Linked DNA regions of Homo sapiens: region 1 is linked to region 2. The links come from fine-mapping of genetic effects on gene expression. A gene starts in region 2. The other region holds a variant in brackets. All regions are shown on one strand. Distances are from middle to middle. Region 1 overlaps ZMIZ1 (zinc finger MIZ-type containing 1). Region 2 holds the start of PPIF (peptidylprolyl isomerase F).

The links. PIP is the estimated chance that this variant, and not a neighbour inherited with it, causes the effect.
Region 1: its variant is fine-mapped to the expression of PPIF in whole blood (TOPMed, PIP 0.90).

What each region holds. Positions count from the first base shown.
Region 1 is chr10:79,311,462-79,319,782 of GRCh38, forward strand. ZMIZ1 (zinc finger MIZ-type containing 1) reads left to right here. Exons shown (of 25, transcript NM_020338.4): 25 at 1,181-5,058. The coding sequence ends at 1,288. Among named protein-coding and RNA genes, the nearest start is that of PPIF, 32 kb to the right of the region's middle. RefSeq lists enhancers at 319-819, 1,577-2,076, 6,223-6,282, 6,872-7,447 and cis regulatory regions at 5,118-5,618, 5,144-5,644, 5,150-5,650, 5,833-6,333, 5,966-6,695 and 5 more. The variant G/A (reference allele first, on the strand shown) is at 4,289.
Region 2 is chr10:79,342,947-79,351,267 of GRCh38, forward strand. It overlaps PPIF (peptidylprolyl isomerase F), which reads left to right and starts at 4,523. Exons shown (of 6, transcript NM_005729.4): 1 at 4,523-4,797; 2 at 6,130-6,160; 3 at 6,719-6,807. The coding sequence starts at 4,603. RefSeq lists cis regulatory regions at 4,190-4,767, 4,267-5,308, 4,267-4,940, 4,267-4,818, 4,267-4,817 and 5 more, silencers at 4,297-4,706, 4,727-4,956 and an enhancer at 6,271-6,771.

The DNA of each region.
Region 1 (8,321 bases), 31 kb before region 2:
GTCCCTTGCGCAGCACAGGAGGGTCCCTGCCCTCCCCCGATGGTGAGCTTGCGGTTTCTGTGTCTGCCTCTCTGGCCCGGGCAGGGAGGGCTGGAGGGAGAGGCCGTCTGTCTGCCTCGCTGGTGTGTGTCTGTCTCCAGTTTTCTTGTCCGCGTGTTGTCCATGCCCTGCTTCTGCTTGCTCCATCGCTCACTCCAAGAGGCCCCCATGTGGGTGACAGAAGGTGGGGGCAGAGGGGGCAGCCTTGGGTCACAGCCAGGGGCAGCAGGCCATCATGGGCAGCAGAGGTGCCAGGGCTCCTACCCTGAGGTCTGGAAGATGGTGGGGGTCACCCTGGATGATGGGGCTGGGCTGCTGGATGGGGCTGGCGGGATGGGACTGAGCACCGGCCCCGCCCATGCCTACACAGAGCTGGTGCCAGACTCCGGGAGGAGGCTTGTCCTCGGCCCCTCCTGTTCTTCACCCCCAGCCCTGCTCTGTCAGCCTCTGCCCTGCAGCATCAGAGGAGCTCTGTGCTAGCTAGGACTCACTCACTGTGCAGCCATCTCAGGTCCTTGCCCAGTGTTCCCCCTCAAACCAGGCCAGTGGGGCTGCTTTTAGATGCATGAGGCTCCCCATGTGACAGACTCCAAGGATATCTCAGTAGAGGGTAGAGACAGTCTGCATCCCCTCCGGGGCCACAGGGAAGGATGGCTGCCAGCCAGCCACAGGCTCACCAAGGAGTGGCGAGCCCTTGAGAAGAGGGATGTTGGGGGGTTGGGGGCGGTGCAGGAACCACTCGCCTTCCCGCCTTCCCACCAGCCCACCTCCTTGTGCTTACACGTGAAGCATGTGATTTCAGCTGGGAGGCCCAAGTGACCTGCCATGGGGCCTTCCCAGGTTAGGGCTGAAGTCCATGCCTGAAAAGGGTCAGCCCTGCTCAGGCCTCAGCTGGTGGGCTGCGGGTCCCAATCCTGAGGCTTGAAATGAGCATGGGGGTGCCCCACACTCGGTGCAGTGGCCGGGGTATGTGTGGGGATACCTGGCAGGCCCAAGCCCAAGGCTGTTCTCTACCCCTTTTTTTGGCTAGGGTCCTGAGAGGCAGGTGGAGGGGGACGGGCCAGGGCGCCCCTGCATTCCTCACCCGGGGCCTGCCTCTCAGGCACACCTCATCTGAACTTCATTACTCCTTCTTTTCCAGCTCCTTCCCGAACTCACAAATCCTGACGAGCTCCTGTCTTATCTGGACCCCCCCGACCTGCCGAGCAATAGTAACGATGACCTCCTGTCTCTATTTGAGAACAACTGAGGGCCACCCGGTCGGGGCCATCCCTCCACACTCTGCATCCTACCCCACCTACCCAACACACTTTTCCACCTGGGAGCCTGTGCCCTCAGACCGCCCCGCACCAGAGCCACGGGCTGTGGGGCGGGGAGCCCTCCCCCGCTGCAGCCCTCTCAGAACAGAGGGGTAGGGAGGGTGCACCAGTGCACCAGGAAGGCTGTGTGGGTCTGGAGCCCACGTCCCACCTCCACACCCTTGGCTTGGGCCCATGCCCAGCGCAGGCCTGAAGACCACCCTCCCGAGAGGAACCAGCCCGGTAAGAGGGCACACGCTGATGCGGCTTCCCGGTCCCTCCGCGTGTGCCGATTCCAGATGACCTTCCAGTGTCCCCAAGGTTCTTCCATCTTCTAGACTGTAACCCTGCCTCCCTGCTTCCTGGTCCAGAGCCTCCCTCCAGTGACTGTGGAGCCTGAGAAGGCCCCCGGGCCCCAGCATGGGCCCCGAGCCTTGGAGGAGCACTGGCAGTTGGTGGCAGTGAGACCAGCCCACCCACCACCACCCACCACAGAAAAGCACAAACCTCTGGGAAAGACAACGTCTCTCGGGGGCCAGGGGTCATCGGTTTGACCCCTGACCTATAAGCCAAGATACCCCATAAACACACTCAGAAAGCAGAGAAAAAGGACAAGAGTCTGTGTTTGAGAGGGGGTCTGCCATTCCTGCTTGGGGACTGGTGGGGAAGAGGGCCAGGACATCTTCTGAGCCAGGACGTCCCTGAGGCTCCACCTCCAAGCTCAGACAGGGCCCAGGCTTGGGGAACAGAGAGAGCAGGTGTACACCCAACCAAAGTGATTGTGCCCTTGGTTGGGGGGCGCGGGCATATAACCTGTCAGAAGCAAACAGGAGCGGCAACTTCTAACTTTGCTCCAAGCCACTCTCTTTTTAAACAGCAACAATTTAAAGCTATGAAGTCACCTGGAGAAAAGGAACGTTGCTCTTGGACAGCAAGCAAACCATTTCTCTCCGTCTGTTCTGTTTTTCTCCTAGTCCCTCTCCTGCCACCTCTCCAAGACTTCCGTGGGACACCCACTTCCCTCTGTCCTAGTTCTCTTTGTCCAATCAGATGGCAAGGGCAGTGCGTGGAAAGGCCGGGGAGGTGCAGAAACCAGAGCCCAGGGCAATGGTGTCTGTCCAGCCCCTCCCTCTGTCCCTGTGCTCCAAGCTGCCCCCGGCTGCAGCCCAGGCCATGGACATGTGCACCAGTATGTACCTGCAGGCATGGGGGGGAGGGGGGCGTGTTTCTGGGCCTGCCCCAGACACTGCCCTTGGCTGCCAGCCTACCCTGCCTGCACTCCTCCACCATCACAATCTCACCCAAACTCCTGCTCACTCAAGCAAAAGCAGCCTCTGGCCTTCCCTCCACCGCTTTGCTCCATCTGGCTTACCACTCTCCAGGGCCTCCTGGGGAGCCTGTCCTGTGTTCACTTTGTTTCAGGCTGGTCTGTGCCCCGTGAGCCACATGGCCTAGGGTGATGCCAGGTTGTCCCGTCACTGGGGTCCCATCTGTAAATTCTTTGCGCCCTTCCCGGCTGCTGCCTGGGGCCCTTTCCTGCTCTCCCGTCCGCTGTGGGTGGTCCCCAGCTCTCCTCTGTGGGTTTTACCGGAAAGGTGGCCCCAGCTGTTGACTTCCAGTCACTGTCCCAGACGGCACAAGGTTTTCTGTAGGAAAGCTGCCATTGCCCCGGCCCCTTTTCTTCCTTTGTCCCGTTGTCGAGGTTTTTTCAAATAGCGTGTTGTTCAGTATGCAAATCAATTATTTTAAGAATCGCTTTTGTAAATATCTTTGTGAATATTTTAGTATCGTCTTTGATAATATTCAACATTTTCATGACCTGGTTATAGCCTTTGCTGGTGTTTTTAAAATACCTGGACTCAATGACAAAGACCGAGTCTTCTTTTTTTTTAAACAAAAACAAAAAAAGCAACCAGGGCTATTTGTACAGTTGAAGGGGTGAACAGAATGGGCGGCTGTGCTGGGAGTTGGAAGACCGGGCAGCCCGCTATTTAGAGCCATCCCTCAGTCAGCTGGCAGGGACAAGCCAACGCCAGGTAGCATGTGGCCACCCTTGCCCAGTGTCTGTGGCCTGGCAAGTGGCCACGCCCTGTGTCAGACCATCTGGGAATTAAGCTCCAGACAGACTTACAGATGCCTTCCTTAGGAGTTCTTGCTTCTTGCGTTGATACTTTGCCCCAGAAAGGCCTGGGATTCATTCTGGTTCTTATCAGGGTGTGTCCACACTCTGCTCACAGGTGGATCCACGGCTTTCCAGTGCGGAGAGTCGAGATGCTCCCTGCAGCCCAGGCCCCGGGCACCTCCTGCAACCATCTCTGGGCTCAGCACCTGAGGCGGGTTTCCTGGGTCCCCTCTCCAGCAAGCCTCCACCAGCAAGCTCGGCCCAGAGCTTCCCTTCCGGCTGGCTCTGAACCGTGCGTGGTGCCTACAGCCTGCAGTCTGGAGACAAGCTCTTCCGGAGTGCTCTGGGAGCCAGGCCAGGGTGTGAGGGAGGTGCAGAGGCATCCGGGGCGGGAGCAAGCCCCAGGTTGTGACAGGTGCAGGTAGACAACGCCCATAAACAGAGATGGTCCTGAACTCTGGAGAGATCCTTCCCTGATCCTTTCGGACGACTACTTGGAGCCATAAGTAACCTCAGCAAAAACGAGGCCTCTGCAAGCCACTTTTCCATGCCAAGCATCCACCCGGCCCACAGGCATGTTTCTGCCGCCACTCCGCAAGATGGACAGGGAGCCAGCAGGCAGGCGGGAAGGGCCAAGTACAGGCAATCACCCCCATCTTCTTGGTTTGAAGCTTTATCCATGTATCATGTTCCGTGTAGCCATTTTATTTTTTAAGAAACTGCTAATACTTTCTCCCTAATGGAAGCCCTGATCCCCCAGAGAGCTACAGGTCTGCTCCCGACGGGCCTCGGGCCTGACCCGTCCACACAGGGCCGTGTCAACAGCAGC[G/A]ACTCAAGGGACGTGTGTACATATGTAAATGAGAAATAGAGACGTGTCAACAGATGCATTCATTTCTCTTGGAATGTGTATTGTTTTTATTTTGCGAAACAAAACAAAACAAAAAAAAAAGCTTGGAACTCCATCACGTGGAAAAACTAGATCCTGTTGGTTATAGCATTTGTGAGTTCTCCACGTCTGTCTCTCTCGCTCATGTAATATACTCTGACCCTGAGTGGAAAGGGGTTTTTGTTCTGTTTTTATTTTACCTACATGTACTATTTAGCTTCAGTGTACTAGTCCTGCCACCTGTGTATTTTTAGGGTGCTATGGAAATAATGAAAAGAAACGGGGATTTCAGAAGAAAATTGTAACCAAATTCATACTTTGTATAATTTTTGATATCATGATCACAGGTGATTCACACGTACACACATAAACACACCCACCAGTGCAGCCTGAAGTAACTCCCACAGAAACCATCATCGTCTTTGTACATCGTATGTACAATGCAATCATTTCATACTTTAAACTGGTCAAAAAACTAATTGTGATTTCTAGTCTTGCAAAGCTGTATGTAGTTAGATGATGTGACAACCTCTAATATTTATCTAATAAATATGTATTCAGATGAAACCTGTATATTAGGTGTTCATGTGGTTATTTTGTATTTAAAGATCAAATTATTTGACTATTGCTAGACATTTCTATACTCTGTTGTAACACTGAGGTATCTCATTTGCCCATGTTAATTTTTTTCTAAATAAATTGACAAAAACAAAGGTTTGGCGAATTAGCTATTTTGTGGATGTTAAGGAGTGGTTTGGGTGTTTTTGCTTTTGTTTTAAACCACACCCCCCGCCCTGTTACCCTCTGCACACACAAAAAAGAAAGGCAGGTGGTTTGGGTGTTGAATTGGAAGAACCCCTGTCCATGGGGGTCCCTGGAACCAGTCCCTGGTGGGGCAAGTGCAGTGTGTGGCCGGATGGTTGGGGGAGTTGGGGTGGCTGAATAGGGCCAGGTGGCTGCAGGGTGCTAGGGGCCCCTGTGGCATGTGACTCAGAGTGTGCAACAGTGTCCCATCTTTGATGGTCCCTTGTGGATTATGCTGGGTTTAAGTAGCAGGAAGCTATTCATATTAAGCCACAGAGGGTGCTGTTCAGAGCACACAGGAGTGTGGCTTCAATGGAGAGTGAGCATTCACTGCACCCATGGCTCCCTGCTGGCATCTCAGCATCCCTGGCCTCCACCTCTCGGTACACCTGCCCCTCCCCTCCTAGGGAAGCTTGGGTTTTCCCTCCTCCGTGAGCATGCTTTACATGGGGTACTGTCTCACGATAGCCCCTGCCCAGGCCATGGTTCTAACCATCCTTCCAGCCTCGGCACCAACACAAACTGACAACACTTGATGTGTCTCCGATTGAAGTTTTAGGAACATGCATCTGACACAGCCCCGCAGCCAGTCCCTGCCCTCCCTCCACGCAGCCTCACCTTAGGGGGAAAGCAAATGTGGCTGTCATGGCCTTTCCTCCACAGGGACTGTCCACAGAGGGAAGAAGGGCCGGGCCGGCACCCCAGAGATCTCCACTCAGATGTATCCGGGTGTCAGGAGAGTGAGGGGCATGTGTGTGCAGGAGCCGGCGGTGTGGGGGAGGCTGCAGGGTGCTGCCTGTAGGGGGCTGGGTGCCTAGAAGCCCCCTGCTCCTGGGGCCTCTCCGAGGTGGCTGGAGTTTCTCCTTTTGGAGGGAGGTGGAAGGTGAGGAGGAGAAAAGATTTACCTTAAATAATGGAACACCCACCGGCCACTGCTCAGCTGCAGGCACTGCCTTCTGCCAGCATCACCAGGACAGGCTGACTCTCTCTGAACAGACACCCCTCCGAGAGGAGGGTGATTAGTTAGCTTGAGGGAGAACTTCCCGTAGGAGACATGCCCCCCTCCCTGTGCCTTAGAGCAGTGTGGTGGGGCTGGACCAGCACTTTAATAAAACAAATGAGAATACAGTAGAAAATATCAGGAGTGTGCCCTACAAAGTAAAGGGTAGCATTCTATCAAGAAACGTGTGTGTGTGTGTGTGTGTGTGTGTGTGTGTGTGTGTGTGTGTCTGCTGAGTCATGATGTTAATTCTTATTTGTGGGTTGTGGTTGAAAACAAAAAGTTTGAATGCCATTGACTTAAAGGCAGGAAGTGGGCAGGGGAGCAGGGAGGGAGGAAGGGCAGTGTGCTCCCCCAACTTCATGATAATAAGCAAACCTTCCTGGCATTTCAGCTGGAGACTCTGAACCTGGGATACAGGCCTGTGGCTGCCCCACAAGGCTGTATGGAGACTGGCCGGCCCCATCTCAGCTAACTCCTCCCCAGACGGGTGACTTCCTTCTGTGAGCCTAACCCCTGGACCAGAAACATCCACCTAAAAAGCCCAGTGGGGGCCCTGGCTTGGGACAGTTCAGAGTTCAGCCTCCCAGCATGTGGGGCCACACACTGTGGATCATCTTACGTCTCTTCTTCCTCTAGCCCACTGCAAAAAGTCTCCACCCTGAATCCACTGACTGTCTTCATGTAAGGCCATGGGATGCTATTGGGGAAATTCATTCAGCCCCACAGGTCGATGTCAGGATACACTGGGGTCTCCAGCCTCCCTGAATGCTAAGGGCACTCAATGTTTAATGGCCCCCCATTTCCCTTCTCCTCTGCTCCAGCCTCCTGCTAACCACGCCCACCTCGCTCTAAGCAGGCTACCCTACCCTCACCCAGCTCCCCACTGTCCCTGCTGCTACCCACAGACCTATCTCCATCCACCCTGGCCATATCTTTTTCCACCCAGGCCCAGAGGATGTGGTGTCCCTTCCCCAGTTGGGGCTACCCCTCCCCCAGCCCCTGACACCATCACCCCTTTCTCTTCTCCAAGGAGTCTCATTCTATCAGCCCGTTAACCCTCCCCATACCTCTGCCTCCCGCCTCCCCGGGTTTAGTGGCCCAGGCTCTGGCATTGCAAGGTTCAGCTTGGTCTGGGCTCCACCCCTTGATGGCCAGTCTCTGCTCCTTCCCATGCAGGCTTCTCAGCCACAAAACTGCCAGTGCCCACTCTCTTTCTCTGTCACCCTTCATATGCCTGGTTCATGCCCCACCAGTTCTCTGACACTTCTCCTGCAAGCTCACCAATGGCCTCTTCGTTGCTGATCCACGCTGCTTTCTGAGACTGGACCTCACAGCTGCACTTGACAGTTGCCATTTCTTCCTTGAAGCTCTCTTCTCTTGGTGCTATGGTTTGAATGCTTGTCCCCCCCACCACAACTCATGGTGAAACTTAATCCCCGGTGTAACAGTACTAAGAGGCAGGCCCTTGGGTCATAAGGGCTCTGCCTTCATGAATGGATTGATGGATTAATGAGTTGGCAGATTCATGGGTTATCATGGGAGTAGGTCTCTTATAAAAGCCAACTTGGCACGCGCTTGCCCTCCTCGCCACATGATGCCTTCTGCCATACTACAATGCATCATGAGGCCCTCACCAGATGCAGCCACCCAATCTTGAACTTCCCAGCCTCCAGAAGCATGAGCTAAATAAACTGCTTTTCTTTATAAATTACTCAGTCTCGAGTATTCTGTTAGAGCAACAGAAAAGAGATGAAGACACTTGAATCCATGACAACTTCCTCTTTCATCTGTTTAGTTTTCCTGGCATCCCTCTGTGCCTTCCTTGTCTTCTCCGCAGGTTCCTATGGTAACTAGGTACTTGTGGTGCTTCATCAGGATCTTCTTCACCGACTGGCCCACCCATCCTGCCGCTGCTACGGGTGTTGGCCGCCAACAGCCCAGAACGTGCCCCTTTATCAGAGAATTTCCCTCAGCTCACAGAAACCTCCATGCCTGACAGGTTACCTGCCCCCTATCCCCACACATGCACCCCTGCCAGGCAGCGCACAGCCAAAATTGACTGCCACAAGGAATAAAAGGCCTCTTGGCTGGGGCATGATCAGTGCTCTCAAATCCTCCCTGTGGGTCAGGTCAGGGCTAGACTTTACCTGAGGCCACATGCTAACTCCA
Region 2 (8,321 bases):
CCCGTCCCCTTCCCAGAGGCCAACAGGATGCCATGGCCAGACCCTCAGGCCCTCCCGCTGAGGACTCTCTCCCAGCTCCTCCACTCTCCCAAGCTTCAATCAGTCTCCCTCAGAGGCATGAGACAGAAATAACCAGCCCATTCCACGTCTTTACAAAGACAAGGAAGTCCTGTCTCTTGGACCAGTTCTCCCTGACCATGCCCGTGAGGTCCTTGCCAAGAGCTGGTGACCAAGCTTGCTGAGACAGCAGATCCAGGACTGGCTGTGCATGGAGCAATGGGATCTTCCAGGAGTCCTGGCTGGGGTGGGGTACTATGGGTATGAGTTATCCACTGCACATGGCAAATGACCCAACACTTAGTGGCTTCAAACAACAAACATGGATTATCTTGCAGATACTCCCAGAAGGCAAGCTCTGCTGAGTTGTGAGTTGCAGGGGGCTGTGGCCAGGCAGGTTGTGTGAGAGCCCAGCAGCTGAGGGTGAGCCACACCCTACTGAGCTCCACCCTACCACACTGGCTCCGCTCTCAGTGGCCCGCAGTGATCCAGATCACACGAGTAAAAGACCAGCTGGACTCCAGAGGAGAGCTTCGCCCCATCTTCCCCTTGTGGGTCTCTCTCTGATCACTGTGCCCACCACCTCCCTGGGCCTTAGTGGAACCTCCCTTCTCTGCCTCTGCCTCCCCATCATGGTCTGGTTCTTAGAAGCCAGCAGAGAGAGGATGATGAATGTACTGACTTTGCAAAGGCCACGGGGGACACTCCATCCCCAGAGAGTCCCACAGCAACCCAGTAGAAGGGTCTGGTGGCTTTCTGAGTCGCGGGGAACCTCTCTCTCAGTTTCCCTTCCCATGACAGATGCTATCCTGGACCCCAAACCCCTCAAGCATAACCAGACAGATGAAGTCCATGGCCTCATCCTACCTAAGGACCATTGTCTAGGCTGGCAGCACAGGTTGTATGACCCAGTGACTGGCACTGGTAATGATCTCAGCCTTCATGATATTTAATATTATAGAAACCCCACCTCATGCCCACACCGGGGCTACCTTCACCCCCAGCCCCTCCTGGAGGGTCTCTCCAGAACAACTGTAACTTTGTACCCCACGACAACCACAGCGTTCACTCCTGCCACACACAGGGCTACCTGGGAGAGGTTTGTTCAGCAGTTCCAGCATCTCAGGACACCATAACCTCCTGTCCCTGTCTTTGTCCTTCTGAATCCCCAGGGTGAAGCTCAGGGCTCAGAACACAGTAGGTGCTCTGAAAACATGTCTGCTGAGTGAACTTTGCAGAAAGGGCCCTGGGGAGAGTGAAGAGAGGGTCTGACCACAGTCCTGGTACTGCCCAGCTGTATGGCCTCGGGCCACTCCCCATCCTTCTCTGAGCTTCAGTCCTCTCACCTGTACAGTGGAAATCAGAGCTTACAAACTATCAGCCCAGAGTCCTCATCTAGTTTGGATACGGTGTTTACAGTTCATTCGGTGTTTAATTTTATTTTGAAATTCATTTCAAAAATTTGAAAACTAGATTTCTATAAAACTTAAAGTCTTCAGCTTTTATTGAAAGATGAGAAAACCTGGGTGGCCTGTGTGGACCCATAGTCCCATATACAATAATTGGCTGGCCTGGGCAGCAGCTACCTCTTTACCTGGGACATCCATTAGCTATCTGGATACAGTGCCACCTCCCCTCACTCCCTACATACTTACCAGCTTGCACCACTCATGTGTATCACCTGCCTGGCCCCCGCAGGCATCTGAGTTTGCAACCCCTGAATGAGATTCTGAGCTTAGCACAAACTGATTGTTCTTTGGCTTTGTGAGGCCTAGAGGTGGTGTTACAGGATCCCTAGGTGACAAAACCCATCAGCACCCTGGATAAAAAACCATGTGAGCTGAGTGGAGAGAAACACTGCTGTTTCTGAGGATAACACAGTCTATAAATAGCCTCAGAGCCAGGTGAGTGCTAACACCTGCCTGATGTCACCTGGGCCCGGAGCCCTCAAGGGCTGGGCATGTGTTCAGCTCATGGCTTAGCCTATAGACTATCCTTCTTCCTGATACCACTGAGAACAGAACAGGAAGGGATGACATCATAGCTAAGCCTTTGGGGAAGGTAGGCTTTTCTCTGGCTTAGGAGGTAGTGATGACGTTTGATTTTCCAAAGAGAGTGGAAGGAGTAACATGAATGAAAGAAGCTGGTTCCCAGTCCAGAGTCCTCAGCATGGAGTCTTTGCACTATTCATGGCTCCCCAGTGCTATCCAACAATGTCAGACCTCAGCCAGGCCTTCAGAGCCCTCTGTGATTGGGTCCCCACAGGCCTTTCAGCTCATGCTCACTATTAAAACCATCTCCCTAGTCCCTGAGCTCCATAGCCCCCTGGCCAACTCCACCGTTTCTATCTTACTGTGTTGTCTGCCCAGGCTTATCTCTCTTGCCTCCCCACCCTGTCCCAAGGACCAGCTTCGTGGTGAGAGTGAGAAGGGTTTGACATGCAATAACCCTGATTGTGAAGTCAGACAGACTGGTCCCAGTTCCAACAGCCTGCCCTTGGGCAATTCACTCCCCAGCCCCTGGGGCCTGGCTTCCCCATCTGCAAAACAGAGCTGTCTCTCAGGCAGAGTTCACAGCTGGGAAAGGGTTCTGAGAACTGAAGTGGTCAAGTGAATGAAGGCAGCACTCCCCTGGGGTGGGGATGCTCATGCTTCATCAGGATGGGGCATAAACTGAGTCCCCCCAGGAGCAGGCTTGAGAAACAACAGGGTACGCTGAGCTACCTGCTGTGGCTGAAGGTCCTGTGAGCTCAGGGCCTGGAACTGGCCGCAGGGAAGCCTGGGGCCTTAAGGAAGCTTCATGACAAGGCACATGGCGTGATTCCTCCACTCTCAAATCCACAGGATGCACTGGTAGAGGAAGGTCTGGGACATGTGCTGAGGGCTCAAGTGGGCTCCCCACTCAGGCCTGCTCACCTCAGGGCACAATCATAAGAAAGGAGGGGCTGCTCCCCAGGGCAGAGTGAGGCCCCATTCTGGGCTGGGACCTGGAATGCATCCCACCTGGGCTTCACTGGGTGCCTAGGCCCCTCCTAGGCCAGGAATCGGAGAAGGGGGCTATGAACTTCCAGAAGCCAAGCTAGCCAAACTTCCAGAGGCCAAGCTAGCATTCTTATGAAGCTAGGGCACTGCTCTGACCTCATGAATTTGCTTGGCTGGCATTTTGCTGCCTGACCTGTTCCCATGAGCCCATTCAGGATCTGGGGCAGGTCAGTCCAGAGCTGGTCCCTACTCCTGCCCACCTGCCTCCAAGGCTCAGCCCCACCCCTTTCTCTGACCCCTCAGGCCTCTAACTGAGACCGCAGCTCTCTGAATCCCAAACTGTGAGAAAGACAGTCCAGACTCTGTCCATCACAGATGCCCACAGGCACAGTACTTAGTTGACAAATCCATGTCTCTCTCGTTCATTTTATCCTAAGAACAGACACGAGAAAAAAGCAGGATGAGGAGCATGATCGCACCCTTACCCTCCAGATGGGAAACTGAGGCCCAGAGAGGCCTGGAGCACTGGTGCAAGCTGGTAGCAATACTCCAGGGCTCCCTAGCCCTAGCCAGTGCCTTCCTGTGTCCAGGCCTCAGCTTCCCCTGGGGACAGTACAAGTGTTGGGCCAGATGCTCTCTCAGGTCCCTGCGTGGCATCCATTTATTGCAGACCTCCCACCACCTTGCAGTGAGGGTGGCTCTGGCTGCTGGGAAGCCCACTTTCAGCACGTGGGGTTTAAATGCTCCTGCTGTGGGTCTCCCCACTGAGTCCCCTCCCAGGGTGCATGCTGATGGGAGGGGGCAGCTGGCAGTCTGCCCCGGGGCTGTCAGTGTGGGTCCTAGGAGGAGGGATCAGACCCAGTCCTGGGGAGGGCTGGGGGCCTGAAAGGAGCATGATGAGCCCAGGCTGCGTTTTCAGTCTTGCTAGAAGCAGGTCTGGTCCCCAGAAACAACTAGAGACAGGCCCAGGCCGGGACAAGCAGGCTAGGGGGCATCATGGGAGGTGTCTCAGCTTATCTCCTCCCTCTTGCGCCTCTAGCTCACTAATCCCGCCTCTCATCTCACCTTTCTCTAACCCTCTCAGACTGCAGGACCTAGGGCAGCAGGGAAGCTTATTTGGCCTGAGCCTTACCTGCAAAGGGCTCAAAGGTAGACTTTTGCTATTATATTCAAATTGCAACGTATAGATGCTCATATTTTGGAATTAATTACGTTTTAGCAGTTTTTCTTTTTTTAAAAAAATCTGCTGGTACCTTAATAAACATGGAACCAGCAACCTTTTGCCAGGTGTCTGTTCTCCGGGTCTCTGGGCCTGGAGGCGGGAGTGTTTCAAAGCACTTCACGCTCCGCGGCCCCACCGGCTGGCTGCGCTGCCCGCTGCGGCCGGCAGGGGTAGTCCACGGACAGGCCTGGAGGAGGCGGGACGGGGGCAGGGCCGGGAACCTGGGCAAGCCAATAAAGGCTGCGGCGCGCGGCTGCGCGGGACTCGGCCTTCTGGGCGCGCGCGACGTCAGTTTGAGTTCTGTGTTCTCCCCGCCCGTGTCCCGCCCGACCCGCGCCCGCGATGCTGGCGCTGCGCTGCGGCTCCCGCTGGCTCGGCCTGCTCTCCGTCCCGCGCTCCGTGCCGCTGCGCCTCCCCGCGGCCCGCGCCTGCAGCAAGGGCTCCGGCGACCCGTCCTCTTCCTCCTCCTCCGGGAACCCGCTCGTGTACCTGGACGTGGACGCCAACGGGAAGCCGCTCGGCCGCGTGGTGCTGGAGGTGAGACCGCTCGCAGGGCCGGCCTGGGCGCGGGACACGGGCCCGGGGAGAGCCCTGGGCCCCGGGCGGCGCGGTGCCGGGCGCGCTGGGTGACCTTGGGCCTCCCCATGCCGAGCTCTGGGCCTCAGTTTCCCCATTTCTGAGAATGGGCGTCAGAATGATTTCTTCCGGCCTCCCTCGGAGCACTGGAGCGGGGGAGACGGGAGGGAGGGCACGTGTGGAGGAGAAAGCTCAAGGTCAGATCGCAGAGAGGGAGGGCTCAGCACCTCTGGGCCGGCCCGGGCACGAGGGAGGGGCTCCAGGAGCCTTCTGGGGCTGAGCCTAGATCCGGAGCTCCGAGGTGGGTGTCGGGGGTCTTGGGGTGAGCGTCGTGGCCCAGCGGGTGCTCACGTGGCGGCCCTTGCACAACACGGAGCGCTTCCTGGCTCCGGCCCCGCCCCTGCGGTCGGGCTCACACTGGGGGTGCTGGGAAATGGAGCGAGAGGTGGTTTCCAGCAGTAGTGCGGGCCCAGTAGGCCTCAGGCCCCGGCCACCTGGTGGACCCCAGAATGCCCCTCCTGCGAGTCGGGACACACTCAGAGACAGTGTGCCCGGCGCCTCAACCCCTGCCACTGTCCTTGGGGGCCACACTGAGCACCTCCCCTAACTCTGTTTTTGGGTCTTTTCTAAAGCAAAGTAAGAAACAGTCACCAGGGTAGCTTTAGAGGGAAAGCCCTAGTGGAGCCTTCAGGTCGGCCACACATTGACAGCAGGGGTCTGTTTGTGTTGACTGGCCCGTATCCCAGGGAGCCCTTAGTATTTCTTCTTCATTCTCAGTTTCTTCTGGAAAATAGGGACACCCTTCCTGCTTCCATTTGGTTCCAGGGTGGGTCTTGCAGCTTCGAGGGTAGAGGCTGGCTGGGATGGGGCTTCAGCCTTCCCTCCCCACACCCTCATGCCTCTCCCTGGGCCTCAGTTTCCCAACCCCGAATGGAGGAGCTGGTCTGGCTTCTACCTTAGACACACTCTCTTGTCCCTGAATTTCTGATGCTTTGGGCCCAGCTGTGGGAGCACTGCCAGCTGTGTCCACAGAAGTAGGCCAAGATAGCATTGTCATCTCTTCTGACAGATTAGGAAACCAAGGCCACCTCCTCCAGCCTTGGGTTCAGGAAACGGCTCCCAGAAATGATAGAGCTGCCTCCCATGGGGGTTGGCAATAATGGGAATGGAATGTCCACGTGCTTCTTCCTTAGCCTCCTTGGCCACTGTGGGGGTGGGTGGGTGCTGAGAGACACCCACCTTCACCTGCCTCTCCAATGACCATCCTCTTTTGTCCTTCTTCTCCCCCAACAGCTGAAGGCAGATGTCGTCCCAAAGACAGCTGGTAAGACAGGGCCTGGGGCCTTCTGAGATGGGTCTAGAGGGAAGGGGGCCAGGCAGGGCAAGGTGGGTGGCGTGATGAGAAGAGTCGGGGCTCAGAGACCCCTGACAGATGGGAGCTCCATGTGTGGCTCAGCCATTGGGTGCTCTGGGGCAGCCCTGCCATCCCTCTCTGGGCCTCAACGTTGGCTCTGCCCTCCTCTCTCATAGTAGCTGGGAGCCTCAGAGCCAGTGGAAGGCACATGTAAATTTCCCGGAGACTTCCCCACTCCTGGTGCCCAGTGAGGCAGGGTGATGGGCACACAGCCCTTGAGTCCGTGCCCTGCTGGCCAGCACAGCCATGAGCCTGTACTCTTGTCACAGTGCTCAGGTACTGAGGACAGGGAAGGGGAGTGACTTGTCCAGTTACATAGCGAGTTGGGCAGAGCAGACCCAAGAGGTGGGCCAGAGTCTTTATCCCCCTGTTCACTGCTGGGGATGTAGCAGGGATTTTGGCTGGAACGGGTATGACCCTGGAATTGGGGCCTGGCCCTGTTGACCTGTGTTTCTCTTCGACCCTCAGAGAACTTCAGAGCCCTGTGCACTGGTGAGAAGGGCTTCGGCTACAAAGGCTCCACCTTCCACAGGGTGATCCCTTCCTTCATGTGCCAGGTAATGTAGTTTCCTCTTCTGTAAGGGGGGATGAGAGCAGGAGCTGCCTTGTGGGTGTGTGAAGATGCCTGGTATGAGGAAGGTGCTGAGCAGAGCAGCTGCAGTTGCTCTGTCAGCCAGGCTGCCCTCCCTGCATTAGCCCTGTATCCAGGCTTCACTGCACATGGAAGCCCAGCCCCAACCCGCTGCCACTCCAGGTCAGTGGCAGGCCCTGCCCGGGGGACTGGGAGGTGGAGTCTATCAAGAGAGAGCTGGGTTGGGAGATGGATGTGCTGGGGGTGGCCTTGAAGACTTTGAAGAGCCAGCATATTCCAGTGGTCTCTGACCTTGTCCCCTGTGTGCCCCTGAGCACTGGTGTGGGAGATAAGAGAGGGAGAGAGAGAAGTGGAGGAGGCGGAGGAGGAAGACAGGTCCAGGGCAGGAACACACACGCCAGGACTTGGGGCTTCCCTTCCCAGAGAAAGGCATTATTCTCGGTGAAATGAATGTTTTTCGGTCATGTGTCATGCTCAGTTTTCACAAGCATTGGTATTGCTGTGTCAGAGGTTTGGGGGTAGGTGTTGTAGCAGGAGCTTCCTGTGGGTCAGGACCCAGGTGGTGTTGGGGCTGGTCTTCTATTAGCACAGACCTTCAAGATCAGGGATTGGGTGTCCTGGGCAGGCAGAGCCTGGAGGCAGGGGCATGGCTGTCATGACCTCTTTGAAGACCTTCCTGCCTGGAATTCTCTCCCCATTCCCTCCACCCTGACCCAGTGGCCGTCATCGTACCGTGGTAAGTGGCAGCGGGTTGGGACTGGACGTCTATGTGCGGCGAAGCCTGGATACGGGGTGAACACAGGGACGGCAGGCCTGGCCCAGCCCTAAGGCTGATGGTAAAGTAGGAGCTGAGGTGGAAGTCCTGAGCCAGGGTGGGAACTCCAGCGCGGGAGGGCTCCCTGGCACAAGGCGGTGGCACCGGGAGTCCAGACCAGAGTCCTGAGTCATCCGTTGGGAGGGATATCAATTAGGGAGCACCTAATTGACACCTGTGGATGCTTCAGCTGGGCTGGTCAGTTCCCCTCTCTTACCCACGGATCCCATCTCAGGAAAACAGCAGCCAGCCATGGCCTGGGCTGGGCAGCGCTAGGCATAGGGGCTGCTACCAGGCTCTTCTGGCCATGGGTGCCCCATGCAGGTTTGGCCACGGCTGCCTGGGCCTTAGCTGAGGCCTGAGGAAAGATGTCAGCCTTGGGCAGACTCTGTCCTGGGTCTGCAAGGGTTGGGAAAGCTGCTGGGCTGGGTAAGGGGCAGTGCGCGGACAGTGAGGGGACTCGGCCTGGGGAGCTGGTCTGGACCAGCTGCTGGTACTCCCACAGACTAGACTCGGGAACTGGGGGGCCTCTGGCCTCTTCCTTGTTGCCCTCCAGGAGGAGTGGGTTAAATTCTGGGTCACTAAGTATCATCTCAGAATGGCCTTTAGGTCTTTTGAAGATTACTTAAAAATTTGCTCAGACAAAAAGTAAGTCATTTGGAAAC